Homo sapiens: one gene and its partners. The protein of the gene in region 2 interacts with the protein of the main gene of each other region in a pairwise test. Each region holds a gene or a part of one and is shown on either strand. Other genes may lie near its edges. The genes, in order: JAKMIP1, BLK, CRKL and BANK1.

Region 1 (7,482 bases), on a different chromosome or scaffold from region 2:
ACCCAAGATCACACAATGACAAGGGATAAACTACAGGCAAGTCCAACTTCAGAAGCCCTGCAGGTTGATCCCGTCGCCACTATGGGGAGAGGAGTGACCCAGCAGAACTGGGACACACTGCAGTCATCCTCAGACTCCCCAAGGGAAGCCCCCATTTAGTTAGAAAGCCCAGCAGGGAGGCACTTGCCCAGTCACAGCTAAGTGAGGCAGGGCCTGAATGGGAACCCTGGCAGTCTGGCTCAGAGCCTGAAGAGACACAAGGTCCCACCCTCGAGGAGTTAAACAGATAGCCATAGCCTGCAGTGGCAATTGCTGCTGGCTTAAGCATTAGAAATTGTTCCCTCTGCCACTTGTCCCACAGCCCAATCCACCCTTACACACCAAGAGAGTGGGGCCACGGTCCTGCCACTTCCTCGTGCAGCCTTCCTGGCCGGGCCGCCTGTCCCCATCTCTCCCTGCACATGACTCTCTGACAGCACGGGCAGTGTCTGTGTGGTCACCTCCCCAGGAAAACAGAGCCCCCACCAAAGTGGGACCATCTCTCAGGCCACCTCACTGTGTCCCGTGTCCCCAGTCTCTAGTGGGCAAGATCTGCTTAAGGAAAAACTACACAAACAAATATCACACTGTATGTGTATAAAAAGTTCTGAGAACACAAATGAGAGAAGCACACAATCTTTCCGGCAGAGTCTGGGAAAATCACACTGATGGAACCTGAGAGCTGGGCTTAATCATGAATCGTTCTCCACATACTCAAGGGAGGGGAGCATTGTTTTAGACGGGGGGAAAAAGAAGCATGTGGGGGAAAAACCCAAGTGTGAAGACATGTCTACGCAACACAGAGGCAGCAGGCGTGGCTGAGACATTGTGGCAGGGAGAGGGGAGAGATGGGCTGGGGAAGCCAGGATGTGAGGAACTGGTGAGGTCGTGGGGGCGGTGGGAGTCATGGGTGGTTTGTGAAGGAGGAAAATGCCAGTCATCTCATGCATTGGGTCCACACTGTGAGCCTTTGGGAGCTGCTTACTGCAAAAAGACTACAGATAAGAATTACCCCAGACTCCAGAGCAGAGATGTTCAGCATTACAGACCGGTACACACCTCAACAGCAACAAAAATCTTGCAACAAGCCACAAGCCTCCACTGTGCGCTACAACATCAGTCTCTGCAGAGCTGCAGGTCTCCAGGAGGGTGGAAATGCCCTGCTAGGAAAGGATTCTAATTCCCCCACTCTATCCCCGAATGTGTCCCTCCTCCTTGCCCATCCCAGCTAGTGGAGCCACCACCCACCAGCCCAGGGTGCTACAGGAAGGGCCAGCTCCTCCCATGGCCTCGCCCTCCACACCAGCGGGTTACTCTGACTTAGGGGGGATGGCCCTGCTATGCCCAACATTCACTGTGGGTGGAGCCCTGGGAGAGGGGCTGAGGCTGCCCCTGCCCTCCTCCCCACCTCCTCCTCTGCTCTGGAAGGCAGAGGCCATCAGATGGTAACAGCATCCTGGGACAGCGCCACGTTCCAGGAAAGCTCAGGAGGGGCAAGGGGATCTCCCTGACTACAAGGAGCTGGCCAGCTGAAGTTAGGGCGTTCGCGGAGAGAGCACAGCACTGGCAAAGGCCAAGGACAGTGTGCCTGCGAGTGTGCGCAGATGGGGCGGGCGGCGGAGGAGGGCTGGCGGTTAGATACAGTATCGCTGGAGCTCAGAGAGCCGGGCAGAGGCTGGCGGAGAGCCGAGGCTGGCCCAGCCTTCAGGAGACCGGCGAGCTGGGGTGTGTGGGAGCGGGATGCTTCTAAGGCGAAAAGAAGCGCCAGCCTCGTAAGCGGCCTCTATCTGGGCTGCCCAGGCCGGATGCTCAGGAGCCCACAGCAGGGGGGATGGAGCGAAGGACCGAGGGGCTGGGAGGCGAGGCCGCAGCGCACTGACGCAGGCCAGCGAGGCCGCTGGCCCCGACGCAGGGCGCCCGGCAAGGTGTCTGGCACCACGAGAGTCAATCCTTGCGCGCCATCTCCGGAGGCCAGTGCGCCCAGGGCGCGCCGGCCCGGCAGGAGGGTGGGTGCCAGCCTTTCTTCCCATCTCTCGAGCCTCCTCCCCGGCGCCCACGTGGGCGGAGCAGCGCGAGGGTGTGCGTGGCAGGGGCCGCGGCGGCGTGTGCCGTGCGTGGGGTGGGGTGCGGGCTGGGCGGCCTCGCCTTCGGGCCCCGCGCCGCCGGGGCGCGGCCCCCAGCTCCATCTTCTTTGCCACCTGGGCGGAGATCTGGGGGACTGTGACCTACCCTGCGGAAGACACGGAGGGGACGGGCCGGCCACACCCCCCGCGCCACTCCGGCAGGCACCGGGTGGGTCCCCCTCCCGCTCCTTGGCTTGAGGGCGGAATCCGGAGAAGAGTGGAAATAGGGGTGGCGTGAAGGAGAGCTGGGGGCTGGGGGCGGGACCGGGAGGGGGTGTTGGGGGAAGCGACGCAGCGGCTGGGAGATTTTGCAAGGGGGTCTGAAGAGGAGTGGGGGATGGGTATGGAAGGGTGGGGGACCACTGAGGTGGGATGCGAGAGTGGAAGGGGGACCCAGAGGGGGCGCGATGGCCGGAGGAGGGGGAGATGGACGATGGGGCGGGGCGGCACCGGTCGCCGCGTCCCTTGCCGCCAGGTCCGCCCCTCGGTCGCCGGGTCCACGGGTTCCCTCTGGCCAGCGCTCGCCTCCCGCCCCCCGGCGCACCTGTACCCACCTGCTCGGCGCTCAGGCCCGAGCCGGGCAGCAGCAGCGGACGTAGCGAGCGCAGCCCCGCGCCGCATCCTCCGGCCGCCCCCTCCCCGCTGCGAGCTTACGCCGCTGTCGCCGCCGCCACCGCCTTAAAAAGGACAAAACGGAACAGAAAATGAATGCATGCACAAAAAAAATCGTAAAAAGCAATTGAGGAGGATGGCAGTCGCGCGCGCGGCTCGGCGGGGCGGGAGTCGAGAGGCCGCGGCACTGGTGGCCGCGATCCGGGCAGGCGGCCGGCGCGTGCCGCACGCGGGTGGCTGCAGCTCCCTCGGTCGCCCGCGCCCGGCTCAGGCACGGCACCGCCCCTCCCCCCGGGGAGCCCCTCCGATTGGTCTGTCTTCCTGCCAGTCAGGCAGGAGGGCGCGGCGCCCGCCCCGCCCCGCCCCCGCCCCCGCCCCGGGCAGATGCCGGGAGCTCTCCTGCCGCCGTGGGAGGGGGAGCTGAGCTGCCGGAGCGTGCGCACTGGGCCAGCGGGCGGCCGGGGCAGGGCTGGGGTCCCGGCGCTGAGCGCCCCCAGCCGCGCCGGGCAGCCTGGCGCCTCGCTGAGTCGGAGCAACCCCCGGCAGGAGCTTTCAGGCTCTGGTCAAGCCTCGGGACCCGGGAAGCTATCCCTGCCCTCGGGGGCTCGAGCCTGGAGTGGGGCTTGCAGGTAAAGCGGGGCTGGGGCCGTCCTGGCCGTCAGTGGTCAGGAAGACGCAGCGACCCCGGAGATCCATGTCCCCCTCTGTACGCATGAGAGGTCTGAAGGTCAGAGGTTAAAGCGCACGCTAACGGCGGCAGAGCCAGCAAGCGGCAGAGCTGGGCGGATGCCAGCCTAGGGAGCCTCCCCCCACCAGCCCAGGCTGCCCCCAGCAAAGCCACATCAGCAGGTCATAGCCAAATGAAAGATGTGCTGTCGAGCTGAGACTTGGGAGGGGCAGGACTCAGCTGGGCAAACATTCATTCAGTGTCATTAGACAAATATTTATTGAGCACTTGCTGTGTGCCAGGTAGTCACTAAGATGTGGGGACACCACAGTGAACAGCAGAGAGGAAGCGGCTGCCCACCAGAGCTTACTTTCTAGCAAGGAGAAGGCAGGGAAGAGCACCCACCAAAGGGAGCAGCATGGGGGAACACCCTGACTGCTGTGAACGGGACATATTTGAGAATCTGATAAAAGTATCTGGGCCACAGAATGGTGAGAGGGAGTGTGTGGAAGATGGGGGGCGGGGGCACAGAGGGGCAGCACTTGCAAGGTCTTGCAGGCTGGCGAGAGTTTGGAGACTGTCTCACCTGGAAGGTGGTCCCATGGACCATTGTCAGATTGATATTTTTTAAAGTGCATCAGTCAGGATAAGCTATGTTAGCCACAGTAACAACCAAACCCAAATCTCCCTGGTGTGTCTTGCCCACATCATACATCCTGCCTCGGTCAATGGGGCTCTGTTCATCAGAGTGGTTGGGAGCCCAAGCTGCTGGGGCTGTCTGCCAGCCGAGCACCCACATGGTGCAGCAATGTGAATGAAAGGTGACAATTATGCTGGCTTTGAAGGCTTCCTCCCCGAAGGGACTCTCGTCACTTCTGCTCACGTTTCATTGGCCAGAGCAGGTCACATGGCCATGCCTAACTTCAGAAGAGGAGGAAGTGCAGACCTCTAAGGTTCAGGGGGTCAGGAGGAACTAGGATATCTGTGAGCAGATGTGAGACTATCTTTAGCAGATGCCCTGGCTGCCCTTGGGGCATGGGCTGAAGTAGTCAAGAGTGGGGACAAGGAGGCAGTGTGGGGGCCTCCTCCACGCTGATACAGTGAAGTATCAGCGCATCAGAGCAATCTGGGTGCAGAATTGGCAGGACATGCTCACGGCTTGGACGTGGACAGGAGGGAGGGAGGGACAATCAGGGACAATGCCCAGGTATCCTGGGATGAATTGTGTTCCCCCCACCCACCCCCTCAAAAAAAAAAACTCGTATGTTGAAGTGCTCACTCCCAGGACCTCAGAATATGACCTTACTTGGAAATAGGGTCGTTGTAGATGTAATTAGCTAAGATGAGGTCACAATGGAGTAGGTTGGATTCCTAATCCAGTCTGCCTTCTATCCTTATAAAAGGGGGAAATTGGATACAGAGACACAAGCAACGGGAGCATGCCGTGTGAACATGAAGGTAGAGATCAGGTCGAGGCATCAGCTAGCCAAGGAAATGCCAAAGATGGGAGCAAACCCCCGGAAGCCATGAGAGCGGCCTGGGACAGATCCTTCCCCAGGGCTTCATAGGGAGCGTGGACCAGCTGACACCTGATTTCAGACTTCTAGCTTACAGAAGTGAGACAGTGCATTTCTGTTGTTTAAAAAGCCCAGCTGGTGGTACTTCGATACATGTGTGTAGATTAAGGGTTATGTCTGGCTGTGAGTAATCGGGATCACAACTAGACAGCGGCTTAAACAGATTTTTATTCTCTCTTAACAAGAAATGCAAAGGCAAGCTGTTCCTCACTTTATCCTCTCTCACTCCTTCACCCTCAGGATGTAATTTTCTTTTTCAAAATGTCTTCTACGTGGCAAGTTGGCTGCCTCTTCCCAGACATCTCATCACTATTCCAGTCAAGAAGGGGAAGAACAAAAGGCATACCCACACTAGGTCAGCTCCACTTCACCGCTTTCCTGAAAACTCTCCCCAGAGAGCTCTGTTTTATCTCATTGGCTGGGACGGTGTCTCATGGCCAGCCCTGGCTTCAGAGGAGGCTGGGAGTATTGTTATTATTTTTTAAGATGGTGTCTTGCTCTGTTGTCCAGTTTGGAGTGCAATGGCGTGATCTTGGCTCATTGCAACCTCCGCCTCCCGGGTTCAAGTGATTCTCCTGCCTCAGCCTCTCAAGTAGCTGGGATTACAGGCCCACACCACCACACCCAGCTAATTTTTGTATTTTTAGTAGAGATGGAGTTTTGCCATGTTGGCCAAGCTGGTCTCAAACTGCAGACCTCAGGTGATCCACCCACCTTGGCCTCCCAAAATGCTGGAATTACAGGTGTGAGCCACCACGCCCGGCCAAGGATGTTTTTTTTTAATTGAAGGTACATTGCTGCCTGAAACAAAGTCAGGGTTCCATTAGTGAGGAAAAGAAGAAGAATGACTTTTGAACAGGCAACTATTGGTTAGTAGATCCAGGTTTTGTAAAACCTGGAGCCGCTACAGTCCCCCTTAGGAAGAAGAATTTAAAAACCCCAGTACAAGACTTGGTACAAAAATGAAAACTTATTTAGAATAATAACAAATCACAACAAATTTTAAAATATTTTAAGTTGACAAATATCAAAAACGTTGCGAAAACATTATAAAACTAATATAAAATTGTATTAATTGGATACCTGATATCCACCTTTATAATATCTTCTTTTTTTTACATTTTTTGCTTCTTCGTCATTTTTGATTACCTCTTTGGAAGCCAATGATTTTATAATATTTTTCCTGTGGAGAAAATAGATAATTCAGAGTACTCCTATAATGATGGGAACAAATTTTAATGTTGGTTGGAAAACTTTGTCAGCCTCATAACTCATTATTGGTAATCTCAGGTAGTTTTTTGAGATTGTTTTCAAATTTGGAGAAAGGTCTATCATTCTTTCATAAATGAATGCTAACACTTGGAAGAATTCTATTTCTTCCAGGCTTCTTACTGGGATTTTATTAATTTTCATGATGAAAAGCAACTGAACAATTGCAAACCAGAACATGACTCGACTAACACCTCCTAAACCTCAGTGCTGGCGCCCATCACCTGGAGAGGCATAGGAGAAATGCAGATGCCCAGGCTCCTCCACATCCCACTGAATTGAAGCCTCAGAGTAGCAGGGTCTAGGAATCAGCATTTTACTAAATGCCCCAGGTGACTCCTGCTGAGCAGTCCTGGGCTATGCGACACCCCCAGTTGCCTTGTGACTCTGAGGGTCTGCAAATCCAGACCTCTCCTATTGGAAGAATGACATTTTCAACCCTTATGTCTCTTCCTCTGCCCATAGACTCCTGGTGCCAGGCACCATAGCACACATTGCCAGTGCCATGGCAAGGAGGGCACTCCTGGGAGCCATTAGCCTGTTCAGGGAGCAACAACTCGACCCACACAGACTGGCTCAGACCTACATAAACACACCCCACTAAACCCAAACCAAGGCATCCCCAACTCAATCCCCCTTCAGCTACATCCCCAAAATGCCCTTGGCCTCCGCAGCAGCTCCGAAGTGGGAGGAAGCATGATGAGGGCGGCATAGGGAAAGAGACAGAGGGTATTATGGGTTGGATTGTGTCCTCCAGAACTTGAGTGCTGAAGCCCTAACCCCCAGGAGCTCAGAATGTGACTGTATTTGGTGATAGGACCTTTAAAGAGGTCACTGAGCTTAAATGAGGTCTTTAGGGTGGGACCTAATGCAATATGCCTGGTGTCCTTATAAGAAGAGATTAAGACACAGAAGGAAGCCCCTGTGGAGACACAGTGAGAAGATGGCCATCTGCAAGCCAAGGAGAGGGGACTTGGAGGAAACCAACACCTTGGTCTCAGACTTGAAGCCTCCTGAACTGTGAAAAATAAGTTTCTGTTGTTAAAGCTCTTCAGTCTGTGGAACCCTGTCTTGGAAACCCTGGCAGCCAGCTTAGCCAGTTACAGCTAAAATATCTTGCTTTTGGAAAGTATTTCCAAACACAAGGCCACATGAACCCAGAGCTCTGGCTCTCCCAGGCCTTGGAAGGGTCTGT
Region 2 (7,026 bases):
AGGTTTTGTGAAACTGAAGCTGATAGGATCTGAGGTCGTCTTTACAAAGGACACCAAATTGTCAGAAGCCATCAGGGACGGGGCCTCAGAGCAGCCAGGCAAGTGAGGGGTCTAAAGCACCAGCTTGGGAAGCGTCACTGCGTGGAGAGCGGGCTCCTGGGCTCATCGCCCGAGGCACCCGACACAAGTGCAGCCTACAAAATGGAGAGAAAAGCCCTTGATGAATGAACTCCCTAAGGCCAGGCTCGGGTTCCTTAGAGACTGGGGGCACAGCTGCACCCGGGCAGGGTCGGGGAGACAGTTTGCAGCCTCTGGGCTGAGGCTGGGGTGGGGGTGTGGAGGGGCTGTGGCAACAGCATGGCGTACGCCTCTGGGTGTCCTTTTGCAAGTAGGTGATGAGAGAGGCACATTGGCTGAGGGAAACTGGAGGATGGAAGGGGGTTGAGGCAGGGGAACTGACAGGAGAGGAAAGAGCCTTAAGTCAAACAGGACCGCGGAAAACCAAGCGTCCACAACGAGAACGAGGGGTCCGTGCCTGACCCCTGGCGGGGAGGCGTGGTACTGCTCGAGGTAGGCGCGGACTCGGGGAACCGGGAGCCCCCCAGCCTGCCGCGAACTCTGCTGGGCCCCAGCGTCCTCATCTCCCAAATAATGGGTAAGGGGCGGGGTAAGGTCATGGTACCCAAGTAGCTGGACAGACGCATTTTATAAAAACATCAAGTTCATGGAAAAGCGTTTCTTACCTGGAAATTCTTACCTCCTAAATTGTCCTTAACCCTTGACATCTGCTACCACTTGCCTGCGGGAAAACATTAACCTAGAAGACAAAATAACAGGTGTATGTAACAGGCAGCAAATGACTTTGAACAGAGCCCCTGGGCATAGCTTATTACGGTGTCCGCCATGGACATGGGTACTTGCAGCTGTGAATGGCTATCTGCTTGTAGGAGTAAGAGATACCCTCTTTAGCCAGAAAATAAAGCCCCTAGTCACTCCAACGAGACTAGATTTCTCAATAGTCCATGACAAAGGGTCCCCGAGTGACCAGATGCCCAAGTGGGGACCTACATGATTGCTGAGAAACTGTGCTGCCTGCCGCAGGGCTCTGTGATTCCCTGGCTGAGTTTTGCAGGATAGTGGGGGGATGCCAAGGTCAGAGTCAGATGGAACTTACAGGGGAGGCTTCCAAAAGCATGGAGGTTGAGATGCAGGGAAAGGAAACTTGTGGAGGGAGTGCTGATAATGAAGAACAGAATTGGGGAACTTTTTTCAAAGCTTTAAAATGAGGCCCAAATCCCAGTCCCGTTTTTTGTCTTTGTGCCTTACTTCTCGTGTGTGTCTTCATGAACCCTCCAGGTGCCTTCTCCCTGTCTGTGAAGGATGTCACCACCCAGGGGGAGCTGATCAAGCACTATAAGATCCGCTGCCTGGATGAAGGGGGCTACTACATCTCCCCCCGGATCACCTTCCCCTCGCTCCAGGCCCTGGTGCAGCACTATTCTAGTAAGAGGGGGCGTGCAATGGGGGCAGGGACTTGTGCCAAGAGCCCCTGGATCTCTCGCTAAGATTCCCAATTGTGTGAGTCATTGGTGCCACCTTGGGGGATGGAAAGATTATCCCAAAGTTAGGCCTAAGGAGGTAGCAACTCTGAGCACCGGGAATTGGTGGCCCTAATTCCCTCTCCTGGCTCAGCAGGGAACCCCTTAGAGAGTAGCAAGCATTTTCAGTCTTAGAGTGAGCAGGTCGATTTTAGAGATAGCATGCCCTGCTTTGCGCAAACGAAGAGAAAGAGTTGAGTGTGTGTGCATGTGCAGGCGTGTGCACACACCCATGCAGGGGGTGGGGTGGCTGGGGAGTGGAGGGCCAGCTAGGAATGATACAGCTCCCAAGGTAGAGCCTGGCTGCTCTGGTAACCCCCAGCCCTGTCTTTTCTTCCCTAATGCAGAGAAGGGGGATGGTCTATGCCAGAGGCTGACCCTGCCCTGTGTGCGCCCGGCCCCGCAGAATCCCTGGGCCCAGGATGAATGGGAGATCCCCCGGCAGTCTCTCAGGCTGGTCAGGAAACTCGGGTCTGGACAATTCGGCGAAGTCTGGATGGGTGAGTGTGTGCACACGTGGGAGCATTTCTCCCCCCATTCCACCTGCGCCGCATCCTGAGTCCAGGTTCAGCATTTTCATAGCGTGTCATCCCTCCCCCAGAAGTCTTGAGAGGGAGCGAGGACAGAGGCGAGGACACTCATTTTACAGAGGAGGAAGTGGAGGTGCAGAGCCGCGTTGTAACAGCTGGGACCGCTTATGGTGGTGGCAGAGCAGGAACAGAATCCAGCTCACCCAGCCCCGAAGTCGCTCCCTCCTTCGTTCTCTGCCTGAAGCTGGCTTTGACAATGAGCTGCAGCGGCGCGTTAACTCCCCTTAGCTTTTCATCACCCAGATGGAAACAGGAGGTTAAACGTGATGAGCCATGATGTTCCAGAGCCTGAGTGCACACCGAGGGCAGCCGTGGGACTTTGGCCAAGTCACTGAAGCTCCAGGCCTGGTGTCCTCACATTTCCATCGCTGCTGACACCTGCCCCCTTCCCCCCCCCGCCCACCAGGATATAAAACTCGTGTTCCGTTTTATCCCTGGATTGGTCCATGAGTCCTCCCTTACCTGGGGCTGGTCCATGAGTGCTCCCTTACCTGGGGCTGATGCCCACGGTGCTTTTGGCAGGAGCTGTACCCAGGTCCCTGCCAAGGCCCATGTCCTCTAGAAAAGCAAGTAGAGTTGTCTTTTGCCCTTCAGGGGACTTCATGGAGTACAGGGAGAGTGTGGAGATACAGATAGTTTAAGGAGTGGGACAGGATCGCCATGGGGCTTCAGAAGGAGGGAAGGAGACCCCCATGCGTCATCCTCCTGCCCAGTGTACCCCAGGCTGTGTGCTTATTTCCACCAAGGAGTTATTGTGTGATAGAAGAGACTCATTATGTAGGGGAGGGGTGGGGGAAGGACACAGGTTCCGTGCAGGACAGAAGGACACAGGCCCAGGGTGTGGGGCAAATAGGTGAAATGCCCCCCAGGCAGGGTACATTCCTCCACTGCCTGAGGCCCCATATAGAAGGGACCTGGAACGCAAGGTAGGCACCACACAACCATGGCCTCCGGAACTGCATGTTCCAGCTCTGGCACCTGGAATGGGGTGGCACCTGGGCACTTACCCCGATTTTGGTTAAGGGATCACCTCCGAGCAAGCTCTCTGTCTTCTGATTGGCTTCTTCACTCCCCCGGGCTCAGGTTACTACAAAAACAACATGAAGGTGGCCATTAAGACGCTGAAGGAGGGAACCATGTCTCCAGAAGCCTTTCTGGGTGAGGCCAACGTGATGAAGGCTCTGCAGCACGAGCGGCTGGTCCGACTCTACGCAGTGGTCACCAAGGAGCCCATCTACATTGTCACCGAGTACATGGCCAGAGGTGGTGCCCCCCGCAGAGCCGCATCCTCAGAGCGAGGCGGGAGGGCCGGGCTTAGCAGGAGGAGGAGGGTCCGCTGCGGTGGGTTCACCAGGCCAGGGGGTCCTGCAGATCTAGGGCATGGCACGGTGTGGGGACAGGGAGGGATGGAGGGAGGGGGAGGGACAGAGGGAGGGTGAGAAACAGGAGGGTGAAGTGGTTCTGACAGAGCCATGTTCTCAGCCCAGGAGCAGTTCAGACAGCATTTCTGGAGTGCATCTTCTGTGCCTAGCACTCTTTGATGCCTGCTGGGAGGGACAGAGCATTGCAAAGTCAGACGAACACCAGGCCAGGCATGCAGGGACAGTACTAGATCCAGGTCTCCTGCCTCCTGGTCATGCAACCATTTACAACTGTGTGAATATTTTACAAGGATGGCCAGAGAGGTTGGGCTTGATGGCCTCTGAGGTCCACGGCGTGGCCAAGTTCTCATGCCACTTTCTCACCCTCCTATGACCCTGACCGCACACTGCTCCTATAGGATCCTAACATGCCCATGTTGATATAGCTCCCTAACAACTGTCACCAAGGGGCCCCCGGTCGGAGGCTGTGCTGGGGGTGCCTCTAGCCTGCCCCTAGGGCAAGCATCCATCCCTCCCAGCTTTCTGATTCCAGGGGGAGCTGCATTTGTCCCCTGCACCAAACCTGGGGGACAGTTCTCTCCATTCTGGTGCTTTCTTGCTGATGCCTGGTCCTCAGAGGCAGAGGGTGTCTGCCAGCAGGGATCAAGGGAGCGAGGCCAACACGGGGGGAAAGACAAGAAGGGGCATGAAACTTCGAGTCAGAACTGGGGTCCCACTCCCAGCTCCCGGCTGGGTGACTTCAGACAGGTCCCTGCACCTGGCTGAAACCTAACTTCTGGGCAACTGCTGGTATATTGGCTGCCTCCCGGGGTGCTGAGACTGGCATTTTGTAAAGTGGAAGGCACTCGGCAGCAGTAGGTAGATCCTTCCTGATGCACCGAGAGATCTGAGGGTGCAAACTCCCACTTCCCGCGCCCATGGGGAGCCACTCACACCAGAGAGAGGCTGGCACCACCAGGGGCGGGTCACTTTGCAGAAGGGCACTTGCAACTTCTCTTTTCTTAGGATGCCTGCTGGATTTCCTGAAGACAGATGAAGGGAGCAGATTGTCACTCCCAAGGCTGATTGACATGTCGGCGCAGGTTGGTGAAGTACCAGGTGCAGAGAAAGGGCGGCATGTGCCACCTGCTGCCCACAATGGCTGCTCGTGCCTTACCACCCCATCCTCTCAGCCAGCAGGAGAAGTCAGGGGGTACTGAAGGCCACCTTCCTCTAGGCAGATATCCCCAAGGTCACCCACTGCACTTGGACTTGCAAACCCTGGCCACTGTGCCTCCTGCCCCACGCAGCTGTGAGGGAGCCCAGGGAATGGAGCCTTAGACCCGGGCTGCTGTGTTGGAATGAGGCTATTCTGTTCCGAAGGAAGAGAGGGCGAATGAATGTCATGGGAAACACACAGAGTTAGCAAGAGTTCCATTGAACCCGGCAGGCAAGTGTGTTCTGTTGTGACCTCATCTCTTCCTTAGATGGTGCCCACAAACATCTCCTGTAGGACTTCCCATCCCAGGGGCCCTCAGCCTTTGCACAGCCCTGGCGTCGACCCCAGGCTGATGGGCAGGCCTGAGCTACACACAGATGCCAGGGACATGACTTCTCTGAGCCCTGGAGGACAGCCCCACCTTCTGCCACCAGGGAATTGCGAGTGCTGGACCTCCTTGGCTACCCAGGACTGGTCCTCAGTGTCCCTCACGTTCACATGCAGAACTTTCTGGACTCCATGGGGTGAAGAGCAGAGTGGAGAGGAGGGTTTTAGCCGAGAGCTCTAGCTGGCAGGAAGCACATCTGGTGGCCCTGTTAAAACTGGAACTCTCAGCAGAAAAGTTTTGGTCTGTGGTCAGCCTGTGAGGCACACACGTGCGTACACATACACACACACATACAGCTGCCACCGAGAGGAAACGCTCCCACCCACCGCCCACATCAGCCCTCCCACCTCGCCCCTCGCCCAGCCTTACCCAGTAGCGCCGCTGCAGGAACTGATGCCACAACGCCTTTTTCCGCTGAGGTGGGCAGACAGCCATCTGGGCAGGCTGGTTTTGGAAAATGAGTGCTGGTAACCGGCTTCAAACCCCAGGGCAGTGATAAGCCTGCCCACTGCTGCTGCTTCCTTTCCCCTTCCTTCTCTCACCCTCCGCTGTCTCCTATTCAATCCCCACTACACCCCCTTGGGAAATCTCGTGTGACCCAGGGGCAAAGGATGTGAAAAGCCATCGGAGTTTAATACCTGGATGTAGCCACAGAATCGGGGGTGAGGAGCCAGAAAATCAGAACTTCCCAGAAGGGCAGCCTCTAACCACATGCTGACCATGCCAATGGCTCTCTAAGCACACATGTACACACACACACTCTCACACACATAAAAACACAGACTCACACACACACGGACAAACACAAACACATACACAGACTCACACAGACACGCAAACTCACACACAGACAGACACACACACAGACACACAGACTCACACACACAAACTCACACAGACACACAAATACACAGACTCAGACTCAAACACAAACTCACACAAACACATTTACACAAACTCACAAACTCACACACACAAACACACACACAAACACGCAAACTTACACACACATGAGCAGACACACACCCGGCCCTTCTGGGCTCTTCTTTTCTTACTCCATAGGAAGCCATGCAAAGTCTCGCCAGACCTTTCTTCCAAGGCCAGATCTGGCCAACCCCACAGGAACCCTGCAATCACAATCCCTCGGGCCCCACTTTGCAGCCAGATGCCACCGGTTCCCATGCCCCATGCCTCGCCACCCCTCTACCTCCTCTGCCCAGGAAGCCTTGAACACTTCCCACCTGGCAGAATCCTTATCATCATCCATGGCTCAAGCGTAATGTCATTTCTATGAAGGTTTCCCTGGACAAGAAACTGCCAGAGAGCCCTTAGCTCAGGTGTTCCCGGAAGCACTGTTCTTGCTCAGCAGATCTGGGCAGCTTCTTCTTGAAAGCAGATCTGGGCCCTACTCAACATTTTTTAAAATATATTTCTGGTACTGTTCAATAAATATTAGTTATCAGAACGAGTACTGTTAGATGCTGCCCAGATATATTTAGTACTCAGTTTTATATTCCCCACAGTCCCATATTAGTAAATGAGTATTGATTGCATGGTGTAGCAAGGGGATGGATGGATGCATGGATGGGTGGATGCGTGGGTGGGTGGGTGGGTGGGTGGGTGGGTGGATGGATGGATGCATGGATGGATGGATGGATGGATGGATGGATGGATGCATGCATGGATGGATGAATGGGTGGATGGATGGATGGGTGGGTGGGTGGGTGGATGGATGGATGGATCCATGGATGGATGGATACATGGAAGGATGCATAGATGGATGGATGGATGGATACATGGATGGATGCATGGATGTGTTGATGGATGGATGGGTGGGTGGATGGATGGATGCATGGATGGATGGATGCAT
Region 3 (5,867 bases), on a different chromosome or scaffold from region 2:
AGCTCTTCCCTTCGTGCATCCAAAGGGTATGATCATTAGAGGGGGCGTGGGGTTGGGGGATGGGTTCTATTCAGGAATCTCTACTCAAGTAACAATCATTTAATTACTGCAAGAACCTTTCAAAGTTGGAAGGAAACTGAGACTTGGAGAACTTAAGCAGTTTGCTACAGTCATGTAGTTTCTAAAAGTGGCAGAACCAGGACATTTGTTTGGTGTCCTGCATGCTCCAAAGTTCATGGCACGGACCATTGGACTGTGCCATAAAAACCTTATGCCTGTTTTTATTTTGAGATGTAGTCTTGCTGCGTTGCGCCGGCTGGTCTCAAACTCCTGGGCTCAAGCAGTCCTCCCACCTCAGTCTGCCAAGGACCTGGAACTAGAGGCATGTACCACGATGCCTGGTTCTATATGTGTTTAAGCAGACAAAAGCTTATTTCTTATTGTCTTAGATCTTAGGTGGGTCTTATATTCAAGTAGCGTTTTTATGGACCTAAGTACACAATACAGAACCTTAGATTAGTGCTCTGCTGAACAGAGTAACACCCTGTCTACAATGACTACCACCTGAAGGTCTTTTTTTAAAATACACCTTTTTGTGTAATTTGACTTTAACCATTCTCAGAATCATGTGTTCATTTCTATCCTGTTGGGGTTAGTGGCCAAAATAGAAGGTTGGTGTGGGGTGGGGAGCTGCTTTGTGCTCAAAAGCTGTTTCTGTGTGTGTGTGTGTTTTGATTTTTGTTTTTTTGAGACAGGGTCTCACTCGGTTGCCCAGTCTGGGGTGCCGTGGCACTATCACGGCTCACTGCAGCCTCAGCCTCATGGGCTCAAGCCATCCTCTCACTTCAGCCTCCTGAGTAGTTGGGACTGCAGTCATGTACCACCACACCCGGCTAATTTTTCTATTTTTTAGAAGAGATGAGGTTTCACCATGTTGCCCAGGCTGGTCTCGAACTCCTGACCTCAAGTAATCCCAGGAGTTCAAGGTTACAATGAGCTGTAATCGGGCCACTGCATTCCAGCCTGGGCGACAGACCCCGTCTATAAAAAATTAAAAAATAATGTGCATGGTGGTGCACGCCTGTAGTCACAGCTATTCAAGAGGTGGAGGTGGAAGGATCACTTGAGCCCAGGCGTTAGAGGTTACATTGAGCAGGGATCTCACCACTACACTCCAGCATGGCTAACAGAGTGAGACCCTGTGTCTAAATAATAATGTATGGGCCCTTTGGATAAGGTAGTGTTTGTGATTTAATGTAAACTGTCTTTTTCTTGTTGCAGAGAAATGCTAACTTTGTCTTCTTCATCCATACAGGTTGGTGACATCGTGAAAGTCACAAGGATGAATATAAATGGCCAGTGGGAAGGCGAAGTGAACGGGCGCAAAGGGCTTTTCCCCTTTACGCACGTCAAAATCTTTGACCCTCAAAACCCAGATGAAAACGAGTGATTGCTGTTGCCCTGTTTCCTGCTGCTTTGTTGTTCTGCCTGTCCTAGTCTCCTTTGAAGTGGGAAAGCATTTTCTCTCATAGGCAAGTCACACTGCATTGCCGAAGTCCAGCTTTCTGCAGACTGGCAGTCGCACACACATTTGGAATGCACACAGCGGCTGCCTCCTGATGTTTGTATCATAGTCGTATTGTCAAAGAGTAGCCGATTTTAGAGTTCTTTTGGATCATAAACTGGAAATACTGATGGAAGCACACAAGTGGAGAGAAGTTGACATGGAAAGGGTCTTCCTTCTCATTGCTGCCCGTTTGTACATGGGACTGATTCTGTTGTGTTCACCAGAGAAAGCTTGAGGCCATGGCGAGATACTGCATGTTTGCTGTTCCACAAAGCAGTGGCTTAGCTGCCATCTTGCTTTTCTTTGGACAACAGGAAGTGAACCTTAAGGAAGAGAGAATTCTGTTCTAAAACTCCAAAATCTGGCTTTTTTTTTTCTTTTGTTTTGGTTTGGTTTTGGAAAACTAATTAATTAGACTTGTGTGGGGGTTTTTTTTTGTTTTGTTTTGTTTGTTTTGTTTTGTTTTTTTGAGACGGTGTCTCGCTGCATCACCCAGGCTGGAGTGCAGTGGCGCAATCTCGCCTTCCTGCAGTCTCCGCCTCCTGAGTTCAAGCGATTCTCCTGCCTCAGCCTCCCAAGTAGCTGGGACTGCAGGCGCGCACACCACGCCCAGCTAATTTTTGTATTTTTAGTAGAGACGGGGTTTCATCATGTTGACCAGGCTGGTCTCAAACTCCTGACTTCAGGTGATCCACCCGCCTTCAGCCTCCCAACGTGCTGGGATTACAGCCGTGAGCCGCCGCGCCTGGCCTAGACTTGTGTGTTCTAAACAGGTTAAGTAGCAGGTTGGGTTTTTATGATAGTGCAAGGAATGACTCATGCCTCTGAGCTTCTAAACTGAAGCTGCTGTAACTAAAGGAATCTGAAAAGAACAACCCTGAAGCAGAGGCCTTTATTGTCTTGGTTGCCAGTAGTACCTTGTTTTGCCATGTAGCAGACAACACACAAAATAATGCAGTTGTGGTGTGCCATGCTATGTGCACAGCCCCTTGGATTACTTTGTTTTAAAAAGCATCAGAGTTGGGGGTACTTTAGGGAAACCTTTGCTTACCTTGTTTTGCCAGTGATAAGAGCAGTGGGTTGGAGGGCACTTGGCCAGTTTTCTGTTCAGCTTTTCAGTGAATGTACCCCTTTAAGGTTCAGACTTAAACTTCCTTAAAAAGTGGCGTTGTTCATAGAATCGTTGGACTCATTAATGAATCGTTCAACTCCACTCACTGAAGCCCAGACCTCCGTGCCCAGGCCCAATCTCGTCAGGCTGCCAGAGAAAGTTGGTGCTGCTCATACTGGTCTCACAGTCTAAGTAAGTGTCTGTGATGCTCCCAAGCAAAGGAAATGCAAGCTCTGGAAATTCGTTAATGTATTTGATGTCTTAGTGTTTTAGTGACTAGGGAGACCATTAACTAGTTTATCATTAACCACTTATCAGTGTATTGATGTTAAAGCATTTCCCTGTTAGCTAAAAGAGGCCTGTTCATACAAGCCAACTGGTATATACGTGTGGTTCATCCATCATCTGCTGCACATAGCAGACTAGAATTCTGGGAACCCTGTGCAATTCAGTCTGCTCTCCCTTGTGGACCCTGGTAAAGAAAAGCCTCAGCTCATAGTGAACACAGCAGACCTAGAAATGTAGCAGCAGCCTACTGAGTAGCTTTCATTTACTGATCATCTGCTGTGACTGTGGCCCTGTCTGGAGGTTCCTAGGTTTTGAGATTTAGAGCAATGCATTCTGGAGACAGAACCAGCAGAACAGCCATTTTTCAATTTTTCTTTAAATCAGTATTCCATCAGGCAGATAACTGCTGTATTCATGAATCTTGAGAGTGTTCCTGAGACAGAATTAATGGTCATTTGGGAAAACTATCGCCATGGCTTCCCATCTGTGGTTTTCCTCTAAAAGCCTTGGAGATTAGCCCTTCCTTGCCAGTGAGAACGGTGACCGCCTCCTGCTCTGCACGGTCTGCGGCAGTTGCCGCTTCTGGTTAGGTGTGTCAGGTTGGCTTATTTTGGGTTCAGGCCTGGCGTAGCACCCACAAGTGGCAGACATATCACAAGAGTCCCCAGACTCTGCCTAGAAACAGTGTTTGCCCTTTGGCCAGTGACGTGGTTCATCCCGGCCCATGTTGAGCCATGAGTGGAGTTTCCAACAGAGGGAGGAATGTGTGCCTTGTTCAAGGAGGGCACGACCCTTAGGCCTTTTTCAACCAGATTTAGCTGAAGGGCTTGACACCTTTGAATTACAGCAGTTGACTCAGAGTGCAAGAAGTCTGGCCATTTTGGAAAGCAAGGTTTCCTTTCAGCCCTGTCTACTGACCAATACCCCGACTCACCTTGTGTGGCGCACTTCAGAATCAGATATACCTAGAGTATACCTGTGGTTTGGTTTTATAATTAATCAGCTCGTTACTTCAGCCCATGAAAATGGCATCCAGGGCTGCCAGGAGATTCAGAGCTCAAAACAAGGCGAGCTTGAGTTCTGCACTCCAGATATGTGCCAAAACTAGTAAAACTTAACGGACTTACAACCTTGTCAGTTTTTTTAATGAGGCAGGGATACTCTGTTTTTCACACTAAACATATGAATGCAGCACTGCTGCCTCAGCTCAGCTTCGTGCCTGGGTTCCCCACTGGTCTGGGAAGACTGTTGTGCTCCATAGAGCAGTGCACATCTGACCCAGAGGGTGGGTGTTCATAACTGCTACTTGCTCTGCTCTACCATGTTTAAAGAAATATTTGGATGTTAAATTAACTCACTATGGTTTTTCACCTGGGAAGGAAACAAATTACGTACTAGAGGGCATTGACTGGTTAAAAACTTGTGTATCCCGGGAAGGACCTGCGGTACAGGAGTCAGCCATGTCTGTGCTGTGTGGAACCACCTGATGACATGGTTAACGAGGAAGACGATGTGTTGACCGGCTGCCGTTTGAGGACTTTGGTCACCCAGACTAGACACCTTCTGTGCTCATGTTTGGAAAGCTGAAAGGGAAGGACAGCTGTGCCCTCCTGGGAGCTCATGTGTCCCTGGCGCTGTGCTAGCTTTCCTTTACAGCTGTTTACAGACAAGGCAGGCCTGAGGCAGATGGCCACTGCTCTTGTGATGTTTGCTCAGAGGAATATGAACATTTTATTTTTGAAAAGGGATGATGTGGTTTTTTGCCAGGTGTTTATAATTAATCCTTTAATATTATGGTTATTAACCTCTTAAACATGAATGAATTCTTGATTGTTTTAACACAGTACCTAAGACTAATGCTTTCTGTGGACACCACTGAGCTCTGCCTCAACTCCACCCTCTGCGACCGGAGGACTATGCCCCTAGTAACTGCTGTCGGTGTGGACGCTGTGCTGGTTCTGTTTTCTAAAGGAGCAGAAGGACAGGTCTCTGAGACAGGATCGTTGTCCCTACAGGAGGAACAGTGGCCTTGCTTCTTAGACGGTCTTCACTGTGTGTTTTAAAACAACAACAACAACAACAACAACAACATAAAACTCTTTTGACCTGTAACTTAAAGATCATAAACTTCAGGCAATAATATTTTCTGTGTAAGCTTTTAAAATTATTTTTGGGGATCATAGCTTGTTTTATTTTGTGCTATAAAATTAACAGTATTAAATGACTTATATTCTTAGAATACATCGAGTGTCTTTTCTTAACAGATTAGTGCCTTTTTATTTTTGTATTCCGTTTTACGTTACTGGTCCCAGCATCAAAACCCTTGTTTCCATGGCCTGTTTGTATATTGTCTCAATAAAACTTGCATCAGCCGGTGGTGGCGGCAGCTTCGGTGTTTCAGTGTCTCCTCAGTCCGCCCCCACTAGCCTCCTGGCAGTTCATCAGTGGTGAAATCTCTGATGCTTCTCAGAGACCCTTAGTGCTGCTGCTGACCAAGAGCTAGAATGAAGTCTTGGCATCCGCCCATTCCAACACTCGGGCACCCAGAGGAGAGCACCTGGGGTCTCCCTCCAAAAGAGAAATCTGCCTCCCAGAGTGTCTGTCTTGTAGGTATTGTATGGGAGCCTAGTGCTTGGCCTTCTGAGCATGAGGCAATAGTTCCCACAGGTTGCACCACCACAGAGAACTTGGATCTTTTTCCTTCTAGGCACCCATATCTGAGGCTTCTAGTAAATATTTCTTCAGCATGAGCTAACCAGGGTTGAATGGTATCAAGCAGAAGTCATGGGAAGTGAGCAGCCTCATTGCAGGTCAGGGCATGATATCTGTGCGGCTTTCTTGAATCCTTTTCTGTTCTTGGCTGTAGGTGGTTCTCCTGATGAACTTTGGGAGACCTCCAAG
Region 4 (7,475 bases), on a different chromosome or scaffold from region 2:
ACATTCAAGTGTTTTATAGTATTGTCTGTTAAAAGTCAGATCTAGGCCGGGCGCGGTGGCTCACGCTTGTAATCCTAGCACTTTGGGAGGCCGAGGCGGGTGGATCACGAGATCAGCAGATCGAGACCATCCTGGCTAACACGGTGAAACCCCGTCTCTACTAAACATACAAAAAATTAGCCGGGCATGGTGGCGGGCGCCTGTAGTCCCAGCTACTTGGGAGGCTGAAGCACGAGAATGACCTGAACCCGGGAGGCAGAGCTTGCAGTGAGCCGAGATTGCGCCACTGCACTCCAGCCTGGGCTACAGAGCGAGACTCCGCCTCAAAAAAAAAAAAAAAAAAAAAAAAAAAAGTCAGATCTACGGAGCAAGGTTCCTTCCAGCAAACTCACTGTTGCTTGTTAGCACAGCCAGGAGTCTAACTGGAGGGGCAGTGGTGGTGGTGTGTGCTATGGTATAAGCAGAAAACCTGCTTACTTCTACAAGTCAGACTCAATATACTTGAAAAGAGAAGAATCAGCACATTTATACAATCACTAGAGAACAAAAGCAAGTATATAATGCAAACAGCCATGCAGGAAGGAATATCAAATAGCTACCACAATCACCAATTAACAATGAGATATTGCTCCATGGGGACTTAGAACATGAATGGTGAAGGGAATTAAATGTTCTTTAATGTATGTTTAGTTAGAAGAATGCACAAAGATTTACCCTATTAATGAATCTTCCTCCAAACTCATCACTGTGAATTATGTGTTAGCTTCCTATCACCATAAATTAACGTATTAGCTAGCTACTGCTGCAACGCATTACTACAATTTAGTGGCTTAAAGCAAACTAAATTTATTATATTAGAATTATAGATGTAATAAGTCCAAAATCAGTCTCACTTGGCTAAAAGCCAAGATGTCAACAGGGCTGGTTCCTTCTGTAGGCTCTGCAGGAGAATTCATTTCTTTGCCTTTAGGCTACCTGTATTCCTTGGCTTGTGGCCCCTTCCTCCATATTCTAAGCATATTCCTCCAATCTCTGTTTTCTCATCACACCTCCTCTCTAACTTTCACTTTTCTGCCCCCATCTTATAAAGACTCTTGTGATTACACTGGGCCCACCTGGATAATCCAAGATAATCTTCCCATCTCAAGATCCTTAATTTAATTCCACCTTCCAGGTAAATACATATATACACAGGTTCTGCAGATGAGAATGTGGACCTCTTTGGGGGGTTGCTACACAGATTAGTATTAAAGAATTCAATTAAATGTGAGGAAGCAAAAGAAAATAAAGCCTCCCAGTAATGACAAAAAAAAATTGCTAAAAATTCCTTCAGACATCCCTGGTATTTGGTTTAGTTTTGAGGGAGTAAATAAGAAGTGTAGTTAACACCCTGGGGGAATAATATAATTCAATGTCTAAAAATCCAGACATGATTGTCAAGAGGAATATTCCCCAATTAACAAATAGCCATGAAGAAGCAACTATTTCACTTTTACAATAGATTACTGCTTTAGAAAAGAACCAGTTTTGTTCTTTAAACATATCCAGAATCTAAAGGCAGAAATAAAGCCATTAGCATGCACAACAGCATCTGGTCTGCAAAGGACACAAGAAATCAGCCATGGCAACTGCAGGGCAACACCAAACAGCTTTAGCTGTCCATTTATTGGAACACAGGGCCAGTGTGAGGCTTTTATAATCTTCACAGAGTGGGGTAATAATATTGAGGCTGTCAATATGCCGCTAAAAAAAATAATGCAAGGGAAGAAGTCAATGGATCCAAGAGTTTGATATATTGAGAAATGAGAAACCTACTGTGACTAGCATTTTCTTGTCATTCTGTAACAGAGGTAAAATCAGAAACCTGCGATTACACACTGCTGGTGGTATTTTGCCTGAAAAAGCCTCTCGGTGTGAGAATTGCTAAGTGCCTCTTTCCTGAGAACAAGTATGAACCAAGAGATAACCCAACATTCCAGATGGTATCATCTCCTTAAGGGAGAAAGCAGGGGAAAAATAAAGTCAACTGTGATTAAAGACGTACTTGACACAGAAACAAGACCAAAATGAGTAAAAAATCTTTTAAAATATATTTTTATAAATGCATCAGCAAAGTATGAAAACATGTAGACTTAAGTTATCACGTGTATGTGTGTGTGTGCGCGTGTGTGAACATCTATATATCCTCAACCAAATAGCACCAAAATTGTAATAAATTATAAGTACAGTTCATACCTATTTTTAAGGATATTAGTATTTAATTGTATGGGCTTATAGTTCTGTGGAAAAGTGGATAGGGAAACAAAAAACGTTTTCAACACATATATGTATAACCTATCCTATTATGTTCATGTAATCTTTAGCAAGGGCCTTATGTGACCTTAAAAGGAAGCGGTGGGGAGGGGGGCAGTTATAATTAAGAGGGCAGGCTATGAAATCAGATCTAGGATTGAATTCCAGCTCTGCCACTTACAGTTTTCAACGCCCAGATTCTTCATTTGTAAAATATGGTTAAACCTTCCTTGTTTTGAGAACCAAATGACATGAATATTGTGAAACTCTTACATAGAACATAGGATATAGAATACTTAAAAAAAGAGTAGTTGTTGACTGCAAACAGTAAAACAAAAGAATAAATAAGTCAGTCAATGGGGTAGTCAATGGCTATTTTCTTATTCAAAAGAAAAGTGAAGCTAGAATAATTTTAATGGGAGATTTTAAAGATTTTCTAACACATAATCTTATTTTTTTTAAAAAAAAAACAGCCCACAATTTTCAGCAGTTTTTACTTTCTTTTTTCTATTTACTAGCATCATTTGACATAAGTAGTGGAAATGAGCTTCTGAAAATATACTTAATTTTCATATTATAAATCTTATTTTCTATAGTTTTATTAGGAGACAGTGTTATAACATTTTATATCTGGCAGAAACTCGAATACAGTAATTTTAATTTATTCATTAATAATGAATAAATTAGATGAGATACGCAAGGCTCAGAAATATTAAGAATTGCTCCAAACACCCAGATATTGTGGAGCAGAGTCAGGATGGCAGCTGCAACCTTCTGACTTCCAATCCAGGGCTCTTCATACAAGAAGGCTGTCCTGTATATGTGACAGATACAAGTTCCTATCTGAACACTGTCTTTATTAACAAGTTTTCGTGTGCATAAATGGGTGCCTTTGAAGATCTGGATACTTAATTGGGGAGCATCATCTGGAGTGTTCATGTTGGCTAAAGTAGCTCTTGTCAGGAATACGTATACCAGCAGATGCATCAGTTAGAATATTCTTTTCTCCAATGGGTTTAAGACATACTTTCCTAAGAATTGAGTTTCTGAAACACTGAACAACACCCAAACCCTGCAATCCAAATTTGTTTTTGCCTATTACACTGAAGTCTCTCTGTTAACAGGCATATATAGAAGACAACCATTTTTTTCAATATAATATTTCATAAGTTAGATGAAATCTTTTGTTCCATTATATAAAGTTCAGAAAATCAACATAAAATTAATAATGATGTTAAAGAAACTACTGGAAACCAGATAAATACAATACAATCTATAATTGTTTTCAAGTTTTTTGGACATTTCGCATACTTCTCCAAGTTTTCTACATTATGTTATAAAGTTCTAATAAGTTCATTTATGTGAAAAAATTAACTTTTTTTGATACTTGATATTTATATTATTACTAAAAAGCACTTCATCCGAGAGAAAGTTTCAAAGAAAGCCTTCCTTTTATAGGAAGAGGAGAGGAACATTTAAACTATGTATTATTACCAAATTGATATTCAAAAAATATATTCAACTTCAAAAGGCAAATGACTAGTTTAGACATGCTTGAGAGAGAGACATTCACTTTAAGGTTCTGGGACAACTCCTTTGATATATCTCCATCTTAAAAACAAGCAAACAAACTCTTGTTTGGAGAGGGTATTTAGAGCCATAAATAATTTTTTACTGGGTCTATTTTTGAGTTGGAGCAGGAGTAAGAAATACATTTTATATGGAATTTTAAATCACTTTTCAATTTATGAACCTAGCCTAGAAAGTCTGTGTAAAATGAAATATTTTAAAAGTTACAGTATTATCTGTATCTTCATTTCTATATGTATGTATCTATCATCTGTGTACCTACTCATCTATCTATCTAATTATTCTTTCTTTCCAGCAAATGTTCACTTCTGGTTTCCCTACGTCTGCCTGGAAGTGGGGGCAGTATGGCAGTATGGAAGACCTAGAAAGGGACAAGGAGAGCTACAATAACAGCGGTCTAAATATATCCTAGGATGAAAAGGTGAGGAAGGAAACAGGCGCAGAAGTGTTATAAGAAACCAAAGCGGCCTTTTGAGAAGGGATGTAAGAGCAGGCCCCTGAGCAGTTTCACTTCCTCTGGGCGCCCAGCAGAGCGGAGCCCTGGCCTTGCGGGCATGAGCCCCGGGGCTGCGTTTCCTGAGACCTGGCCGCAGCCTCCGCGGGTGGCAAGCGGGCTGGGGAGAGCCGAGGGCCAAAGGAAGAGAAAATCGCGGGGAGTCTCTGGCCGGGAGAGTCCAGGTAGCGCTCGGCGGGCAGCAGTGCGCAGGCCCCTCGGCTTCAACCGCCACAATGCTGCCAGCAGCGCCAGGCAAGGGGCTTGGGAGCCCGGACCCCGCCCCCTGCGGCCCAGCGCCCCCAGGTGGGTAGTCGCGCATTCGGAGGGGCTTGACGCCGAGGCCGGGCTACGGGGCTCTGCGGAGACCACGGGCCATCGTTAGACAACTGCACTCGGGCACTGAGGCCAGGGCGTCCCTGAGACAGGGCTTCTCCTTTTTATCCTGCCGCCAGGCAGCCCAGAGGGTTCTTCTGTCCCTGACTTCTCTGAGGGGCATCTGGACGCCACGAGGAGGGAGCGCGCTGGGAGTTCTGGCCAGCGGGCTACCCTCAGTGTCTGCAACTTCTGAGGAGCTGGAACTTTCCCCAGCACCCGGGTCAGGGTCCTGTAGTTTCTAAAATCACTTTGCAACCTGTTTTAAAGCAATGCGCGTTTAAAATTATACGTAATTATTTTCAACAGTCGGTAAGCACAGAAAAACCGCTCATGTGTAGCGTCACGCATTTACCTGCCCGGCCTGACAAATCCCAGCCTGGTGAATTGGTAGCCCTGCTTCTTGGCAGGTGGCTTTGCAGAGAAACTCTACCAACACCACCTCCCTACTCCACTGGCTTTACTAACTTGGTCAAAGGAAAACGGTCAACTTGGTTGAATGCAGAAGTAGATTTATATTTTCAAATGGACGTTAAGGCAGTTTTATTTAGTTCTTTTTGAAGCATTTCAAATGCATTTGCAAATTACTCAGTGATATAAAAATGTTTTTTAAATTAAAAAACTTCACTTAGGTATTAATATTACTGGAGTGTTCGTGGTGAGAAATGCAACAAGAAAGTATATTCTGAGTGAAAGTTTCTTAATTTGCTGAATAGAAATAAATTTCTCATACCTTTCTAGAATTTTTTAGGTAATGTAATTTTGGTTGTAGCTATTTCTGTTGGCTAGTGCATTTTTACATAAATAAGCTTTAGGGATTGCTTTCAGTTAAATAAGAAGTATATTTGTGTCAATGAAAAGTGACAAGAAAGGACTTAGAGCCCATAACTTAATATTATTAATATTTTAACTATTGCATATTGACATTCTTGAAAACTGTGGCTCTGATGGTCTTCAGCAGAGCAGACTTTGCTAGCATCTATAAATAAACCAACCATGTCTTTCAAACTTTGAGCAGGTTACCTCTTTTGTAATTTCAGTTTAACAATTTTGTTAGAGAATGGGGTACAGTTTGTTTCAAACTTCTAGATTAAACAGTTTAGGCAGAAAATGCCTTTTATTTCACTTGATACTAAGCAATACTTTGAGGCACTTGCTATTGTGAATAATGCAAGAGTAATGTGAATCAATATTTATAGCATTCCAATTATTCTTGTTCCTCCCATGCATTCCGCTCCCCCCCCGCCCCGCCCCTCCCAACTCCTTGGGTCCTTCTCCATGCAGTATTTATCACTTGCTTCAGTTACTTCCTTTTCTGGCCAACATAATGAAACTTTTCTAAAAACGAATTGTCTTTTGACATTATCCCATGCCCATATTCTTGATATGAGTAATCTTCTAGCTTTTATAAATCCAGTGGTTTGTGTGTGTGTGTGTGTGTGTGTGTGTGTTTTTTTTTTTTTAATGAAGAGCTCCCTCTCTCTCCAACAACTATCTTAATATGGCACATTGGGGGTCAATTGGTCCAACTGCCTCATTTAGAGAAGAGAGCACTGAGATCCAGAGTGTGAGTTGCTCATGGTTTCATAACTAGTAATTATTTGAAGGTCACCCATTCATTAACTTAACAAACTTTTATTCCCTGCCAAGAGTCATGTAGTAGTAATAAGAATGTAAAATGGTAAACACAGTTTCATGCCCAGGAAGGTATATTTCTAGCAGGAGATAGAATGTACTGCTAGACAACATTAGTGTATACTGCCATCAGAGATTTATTAACTGTTGAGTATCGACTTGTTCTTTAATGGAAGCAAGAAAAATAGAATACCCAGTTCTCTAAAACAAGGTAAAAATGATGCACAATGGGTGAAAGTTCTAGTTAGAATGTATTTTCTGGTTTGTATTTAACTATATATTACTATCAATGTCCAAAAGAGAGATTCTTCCTGTTGTATTCCAAAACTAATGATTTTAAAAATTTAATTTTAACTGCTGTTTTAATTAGGGAGTGATTATTTATTAAATCACAGATTTTTCTCCACACCATAGTTTTTTTTAAATTTTTATTGATATTATTGGATGCATCTGATGAAACTTTAATAAATGATTTGCTTAAGAACAGAAAGCATGAAAGGGTGGAATTAGCATTTAGACTGTTTCACCTTACGCTGGATGCTTATACTTGTAAGGAACATGGTTTGTCTAGGTCTCTGCTCTCTAGCTTGAAGTTCTTAAAGATTTGAAGCTTTTTGCTTTGACTGCAATCTTCCAACATAGCCAACGTCCTACACTTGTTCCACTAAGGAAATAACCTGGTTCCATGCTGGTGGCTGGAAAAACTTGCTTTCTTCAGACCAATCTGGAAATGTTCTGATAAGGTCACTTTTGCTAGGATTTTAAAGACAAGGAGTGCTTTCAGGATATCTTCACCATAATAAGGAATAATTCTGAAAAATGCAATTGCTGAAGATTTCAAGGTTAAATATCAGCATATTCAAAGTTACACTTGGGACAGTAGAGGAACCTTTTCTGCAATATCTATCTGAGGATGTATTGTAGGTGGTTATGCCCTACTTATGATGGTCTTTTGACTCATACTGCCTCAGATCTAGTCCCAGCTTCATTGCCTGTCTCATCTGTGACCTTGAATAAATAATGAAATCTGTCACTGTCTTAGTTTTTTATTTTGTTTATTAAAAAGCAAAATCCAAGAGAAGAAATCCTG

Evidence for each region.
Region 1: the proteins of BLK (region 2) and JAKMIP1 interact in binary tests that used the Homo sapiens proteins (3 or more experiments, as listed by UniProt).
Region 3: the proteins of BLK (region 2) and CRKL interact in binary tests that used the Homo sapiens proteins (3 or more experiments, as listed by UniProt).
Region 4: the proteins of BLK (region 2) and BANK1 interact in binary tests that used the Homo sapiens proteins (3 or more experiments, as listed by UniProt).

The regions. Positions count from the first base shown.
Region 1 is NC_000004.12:6,197,537-6,205,018, forward strand, and holds the start of JAKMIP1 (janus kinase and microtubule-interacting protein 1), read right to left. Parts: upstream 3,014-7,482; 5' UTR 2,717-3,013; intron 1-2,716. UniProt on the Homo sapiens protein: Associates with microtubules and may play a role in the microtubule-dependent transport of the GABA-B receptor. May play a role in JAK1 signaling and regulate microtubule cytoskeleton rearrangements.
Region 2 is NC_000008.11:11,553,387-11,560,412, forward strand, and holds part of BLK (tyrosine-protein kinase Blk), read left to right. Parts: exon of another isoform or gene 1-194; intron 195-743; exon of another isoform or gene 744-817; intron 818-1,356; coding exon 1,357-1,503; intron 1,504-1,945; coding exon 1,946-2,098; intron 2,099-2,199; coding exon of another isoform or gene 2,200-2,465; exon of another isoform or gene 2,466-2,476; intron 2,477-2,679; exon of another isoform or gene 2,680-3,271; coding exon 3,272-3,451; coding exon of another isoform or gene 3,452-3,529; intron 3,530-4,503; exon of another isoform or gene 4,504-4,575; coding exon 4,576-4,652; exon of another isoform or gene 4,653-4,879; intron 4,880-7,026. UniProt on the Homo sapiens protein: Non-receptor tyrosine kinase involved in B-lymphocyte development, differentiation and signaling. B-cell receptor (BCR) signaling requires a tight regulation of several protein tyrosine kinases and phosphatases, and associated coreceptors.
Region 3 is NC_000022.11:20,948,396-20,954,262, forward strand, and holds the end of CRKL (crk-like protein), read left to right. Parts: intron 1-1,315; coding exon 1,316-1,450; 3' UTR 1,451-5,352; downstream 5,353-5,867. UniProt on the Homo sapiens protein: May mediate the transduction of intracellular signals.
Region 4 is NC_000004.12:101,786,270-101,793,744, forward strand, and holds the start of BANK1 (B-cell scaffold protein with ankyrin repeats), read left to right. Parts: upstream 1-4,460; 5' UTR 4,461-4,611; coding exon 4,612-4,681; intron 4,682-7,475. UniProt on the Homo sapiens protein: Involved in B-cell receptor (BCR)-induced Ca(2+) mobilization from intracellular stores. Promotes Lyn-mediated phosphorylation of IP3 receptors 1 and 2.